2 separate regions of the Homo sapiens genome follow, and region 2 is linked to region 1. Evidence: fine-mapped QTL for protein levels in blood plasma. Region 1 holds a variant in brackets. A gene starts in the other region. All regions are shown on their reverse strands. Region 1 overlaps HNF1B (HNF1 homeobox B). Region 2 holds the start of GHRL (ghrelin and obestatin prepropeptide).

The links. PIP is the chance, under the fine-mapping model, that this variant and not a neighbour inherited with it causes the effect. The UK Biobank Pharma Proteomics Project read protein levels with antibody pairs (Olink). The fine-mapping took linkage between variants from a reference panel, not from the people measured, so its PIPs are less certain.
Region 2: it holds the start of GHRL, and the variant in region 1 is fine-mapped to the plasma level of the GHRL protein (UK Biobank, PIP above 0.99).

What each region holds. Positions count from the first base shown.
Region 1 is chr17:37,714,459-37,717,369 of GRCh38, reverse strand. All of the region lies in intron 4 of HNF1B (HNF1 homeobox B), which reads left to right. LOC105371754 (a long non-coding RNA gene) reads right to left here. Exons shown (of 3, transcript XR_001752875.2): 1 at 2,743-2,911. Among named protein-coding and RNA genes, the nearest start is that of HNF1B, 29 kb to the left of the region's middle. The variant G/A (reference allele first, on the strand shown) is at 1,773.
Region 2 is chr3:10,291,523-10,294,433 of GRCh38, reverse strand. GHRL (ghrelin and obestatin prepropeptide) reads left to right here and starts at 1,487. Exons shown (of 6, transcript NM_016362.5): 1 at 1,487-1,592. GHRLOS (ghrelin opposite strand/antisense RNA) reads right to left here. Exons shown (of 6, transcript NR_073568.1): 6 at 985-2,366. RefSeq lists enhancers at 1,295-1,589, 1,400-1,649, 1,660-1,729.

The DNA.
Region 1 (2,911 bases):
TGTGTGTGACAGAGCCCCAGCCAGTTGAGTAATGTTTACTCTGTTGGTGGCTGGGACGCTCACTTACGCTGGCAGAGGTCCACCAGCCAGAGGAACATTCCTGCATTATCAGGGATGGGAGGTTGGCTCTGAAATGTCAAGGGTGAAAGGCATCCCACCAGATTCTGGGTGCAGCTCATAGACTTCAGTGAAAGGAACCCCCAGGTTTCAGTGCCAAAAGCCACATCGTGGGCAAGCTGAGCCCCACATTGCCCAGGAATCCCCACTTTCCTCATTTCTTCTTACTAAAAGAACAATTCTGGTCCTGTTTTCTTTGTTGACATTGCTCTTCTGTTTACCCAGCAGAACCAGTGCATCTCTGACATTATTTTATTCATTCATTATTCTGGCTTGTGAAGAAGGAATATCTGTGTGCCCCTTTCACAGACAAAAATGCCAAGGCTCAAAAGTTAACTGACCCAGAATCATCAGAGAGTTATGGCAGAGAGAGAGAGAGAGAGAGAGAGAGAGAGAGAGAGAGAGAGAGATTGTTAAAGTGTCTAGAGGCTGGTGCCCAGTTGATCTCTGGAATCATGGAATTCCATGATTTTTTGAAGCTCTTAGAGCTGAATTAAATCGCCAGGGGCTCTATGAGCTGTAGCTCTAAGGCCCTGAAGCACAGGTTTCTGCAAAGTCTCTGGTGAATGGCACCCTGAGCAGCTCCTCTCTGGGGTCCTCCTGCAAGGCAGTCATGTTTGTCTTTGAACACACAGGCGCAGTAGGGTCTATATAACCTGACATATGCAGCCTAAAAATCACCAGAGTTTGCTAAGCCATGTGATAAGAACCACAGGGCTTACGGGAAAAACAGGATTAAAAACACAACACTTGAGGCCGGGCGCAGTGGCTCATGCCTTCAATCCCAGCACTTTGGGAGGCTGAGGCGGGCGGATCACTTGAGGTCAGGAGTTTGAGACCAGCCTGGCCAACACGGTGAAACTCTGTCTCTACCAAAAATACAAAAATTTAGCTGAGCGTGGTGGTGGGCGCCTGTAGTTCCAGCTACTCAGGAGGCTGAGGCAGGAGAATCACTTGAGCCCGGGAGGCGAAGGTTGCCGTGAGCCGAGATTACGCCACTGTACTCCAGACTAGGTGACAGAATGAGACTCTGTCTCTGAAATAAACTTTTTTAAAAAGCACAACACTTGAAAACTTCCTCAGCGACACATTTTGTTTGTTTTGAGATGGAGTCTTGTTCTGGTCACCCAGGCTGGAGTGCAGTGGCACGATCTCAGCTCACTGCAACCTCTGCCTCCCAGGTTCAAGCAATTCTCCTGCCTTAGCTTCCTGAGTAGTGGGGATTACACCACTATGCCTAGCTAATGCGCGTACCACCATACCCAGCTAATTTTTGTATGTTTAGTAGAGACAGGGTTTCACCATGTTGGCCAGGCTAGTCTCGAACTCCTGACCTCAAGTGATCCACCTGCCTCGGCCTCCCAAAGTGCTGGGATTACAGGCATGAGCCACCGTGCCCGGCCAACACATTTTTAAAAGATAAGAATCCAATAAAAAGATTACCAGAGTTTTATACCCGTTAAATAGTTAAGAAATATATCAATGCTATACAATAGTAAATATGGCAAGTTTGCCTAGGGAAGTGGGCATCAGAAGTGCTGCGGGTTGTGAGTTACTGTGAAGCAGTGGAGAAAGGGTTATCTGACATGGGAAGGAAAAGATGTGACTCCATATTGCATGGATGTGTCTTACCAGTGCACACAGTGGACCGAGGC[G/A]GCTGGTGGATGTTTGAGGTGCGCATATGTACACACAGGAGCATTGTTAGTATTCTCCTATGTGGTTCCATTCAGCTGGATGCAGGCTTCTGAATTCACTAAGTGTTTTCCAAATGTGAAATTGACATTACACTCAAATTATCCCCAATATGTCTATATAATTGGAACAGATTTACACTTTCACTACAATAAATACACAACTGACTGTATTTTCTACTTCTGCTAGACGTGATGCTCCTTGTCTGGGGCATGGGTGCTCAAAGCTGCTGGGGTTTCATTCCTTCAGTCAATAAATATGCACAGTACCAGGCAGTCTGCTAGGCTATAAGGATGCAACAAGTAAAGACTCATCTCTTTCTTTAAGAGGCAGAGAAAAGTAAACATATCATCAGCGTGCATGCAGGGTGACTGACTCCTGCCGTAAGTCTCTGTCTAGTGCATGTAAAATACAAAGGAAGGAGCAGCCATCTCCCAGGATGAATCAAGAAGAGCTTCACAGGGGGGCGACATGTGACACGAGATGCTTTCCAGGCAGAGGAAACAGCAAAGGTGCAGAGGCAGGAGATGGTCAGGCCATTTGAGAAGTGCATTAAGATTGTGGTGAGAGATAATGCAAATAAAACAGATGAATCACAAAGGCCCAGTTCTGCCAGTCTCAGGTGTTGGGGCTTTTCTGGAAAGCAGTGAGGAGCCATCAGATGTTTCCAAGCAGAGCAGAGGCATGGTGTGACTTTGTTTTAGAAAGATATCCCAGGCTGCAGCAGTGTGAAAGGACCCTAGAGACGGTGCTGGCACAGGAAGGCAGAGCAAGGATGCTGGCTTCTTGGAACCATGCACCTGTGCCATGCCTTTGGCACTTCTGACCAGTCATATTGGATAGAAACCGAATGATCTGCGTCTGTATCCAGGAATAGCCCAACACCCATGATGCTGATGCCTAGGAATAGAGGAAAGTAGATGATCTACTCACCAGGGCCTCAGGGATGTCTCAACTCCACCTTGGATGGCTTTTGCTGCTGGACACAATTGCTGTGGTTCATAGAGCCAACAATGGGGATGGGGCCAGTGAGTGGCTTGAGCTAGGAAGTAAGTAGAAGGTGAATGGCTACCATCTGCCACTGTCATTTCTCCTATGGGTC
Region 2 (2,911 bases), not on the chromosome of region 1:
AAGGAAAGGGGAAGGAAATGGAGATGGTAACACGAGGGGAGGGTGGGATCGGTGCACAACAGACGTTTTCAGGATTAGGAACCTGGGTGTATTTTAAGGCAGAAAGCAGAAGCCACTGGAGGGGAACAGAAGACACGAGAGAGGCAAAGTGTTAGAGCTTTGGCCCCAAGATGGCCGGAGGCTAGGGAAGCCCCAGTGAGAGAGGCAGAGCTTGGCGAAGAGGAGGGATGAGAGAGCATGGCTAAGGTCAGGGAGGATTTAAGAGCGATGGCCGCCTATCTAGAATGAGCCGCATGTGGCTGCTGAGCATTTGAAACATGGCTAGTCCAAATTGAAATGCACTGTAAGAACACACACTGGATTTCAAAGACTACACATCTGTAATCCCAGCACTTTGGGAGGCAAAGTCAGGCAGATCACTTAAGCCAGGAGTTCAAGACCAGCCTAGGCAACATGTCAAGACTCTGTCTCTACAAAAAATACAAAAATTAACTGGGTGTGGTGGTGTGACCTGTAGTCCCAGCTACTTGGGAGCCTGAGGTGGGAGGATCATCTTAGTCCAGGGAGGTGGAGGCTGCAGTGAGCCATGATAGTGCCACTGCACTCCAGCCTGGGTGACAGAGCAAGAACCTGTCTCAAAAAAATATATATGTATATTCATTTAGACATATGCTGTTGCACACTTAGACTATAGTATGGTATCAGCATACGTTTTATATTTACTGGGAAACCAACAAAATTCGTGTGACTTGCTTCATTGTGGTCTGGGACCAAAGCTGTAATGCCTCCAAGGTATGCCTGTATATTTCTATTGCAAAATGTGAATCTCGAAATTATAAAAGCTACAACTAGGACAAAAAGCAACCCCACCAAATAGCCCTATATCAAAGAATAAAATCTCTTTCTAGAACCCCAGAATTTGCCTCTTTCAGACTGAAGTTTAGCCAAATCTATGAAAAAAGAGCTTGCTAAACCAACTAATTATCAGTACAAATAAAATTATAATGAAAAGTCTATGAAGATAATTTGTTCTCAGATGCCCTTCACATATAGCAATTAATTCACAAATGATGAGTCACTCATGTGCCTTCATGAAGGCAGGCCCTCAAGAGACCCGCAACAGAAAGGAAAGCCACCGACTGGAGAGAACCTGCTTCCTGAGCCCCACCAAGTTCCAAAAAGGAGAATGGGGCTTCGTCCTCACCCTCAAGGAGTTGCCAAACTGGGCTTGGTTATTATTCACACTTGAAAAGAATGAGGAAGGTCAGCCAGTCCCCTCCAGGTCGCTCGGGCTTCCTCCAAGCTCCTCTTGGTTCAAATTTGCTGTGTCCTCCAGCCGGCATCTCTCCTCTGTTCCGTAACTGACAGGGCAGCGAGGTAGCTTCCGGATGACTCCTCCCGCCATGGTTCTTCCGTCCATCAGCTCTTCCTTCCTCAACTCTGTGGTATGTGGCTAGGGGAGTTTCCAACTCCCAGGGGACATTTCAGTTCCCCAAAGATAACACAGCTTTGCACAGTGGATGTTTACTTGCTGGTGGTCTTATCTAAGATCAACATTGGCAGCTGTGCCCGGAGAGGCCTCCAGGGTCCAGGTAAGTGGAGGCTTCATGTCTCAGGAGGTACCTGGTCACCACAGTTAGGATTTTTCTGTTTGGGGATTTTTTTTTTTATGGGTTGGTGGCTCTGAAAAAGCTGCAAGTCTTCTCTGAGGACTACAGACCTCTCTCCACCCTCTCCACATTCAGCCTCTCTGGGCTCCAGGGCCAAAAGATGTCTACACTCAGGTGGCAGACAGGCCTGTGAAGACCTCCTGGTGACATGCTCATATGTTGCTGGGACTAAAGGTGGGATTTTAGCCACCACAGTGGGTTGGTGGTGAGATGTTTACCAACAGGAGGTACTTTGTCCCTCATGTCCACTTAAAGATTCAGTCCAACCCGGCCTGTGCTTCTGCTGTCCCAAGAGACTCTAGAAAGCTCCAATCCTCCCTGAGGTTGATCTTTTAAGTCAGGGTAGGTGGTCATTCGGCAATCAACTGCTCTACTGCCTCAATGTCCTCCTCACTGGACGTCCTGCCCCAATTCCATCCTGTTCAGCGCAGACTGATTTTCCTGGAACACAATGTTCATTATGGAGCCAGATGGCATATCAGAAAGAGCACTGTATTAGGAGTCAAGAGATCCATGGGGGAATCCCAGCATTGCCCCTGATGGCTGTATAGCTTTGGGGAAAGTGAGGCCCTCTTGGCATTCAGTTTTTCTTCCAGCGAAATAAAGGATTCAGCCTCCCAGAGCTTTAAAGTCTTTCCAACTCTTTCATTCATTCTATGGTCTCTCTCTCCTCAAGAATCCTCAGTGGCTGCCCTCCTGCAAAAAAAGCCCAAACTTCTTGGGCTAGCAGTTCCCAAGGCATCCATCACCTGGCCCCAAACCACCTTCTTATGTTTTTGTTATGACCCCATCGCCACCCTCCCCCAAGCCACCCAGCCTTCTCCATGCTGCCCTGATGTACTCTACCCACGCCTTCACCTCCCCTCTGCTTGCCGCAAAGCCCTCCCTCCAAAGCCCTGCCCCGAGTTCACCACAGGCCTCTTTCCTGGAGCCTTTGCTAACATCCCTGCCGCAAGCCCCAGCCTAAGGTGAGCTCCTCTCCTGAACTGCTAGAACTTCTCTGCAGACAACTCATTGGCCCTTAGGGGTTCCTGCCTGGGCACCCAGTTGGATGAAGCACTCCAGAAAGGAAGAAATTCCTGGGGCCGAGGGAAATGAGGCAGTGGCCTTGGCCTATGCTGGGAAGTCCTATGGGCCTGGTATGAAACCATTGTCATCTGCAGGGTGTTTCACAGGTTAGAAGCCACTTTCCCCCCATCGCCTCATTTCACCCTCAAAGACTCTGGGTAAGGGGAATTATT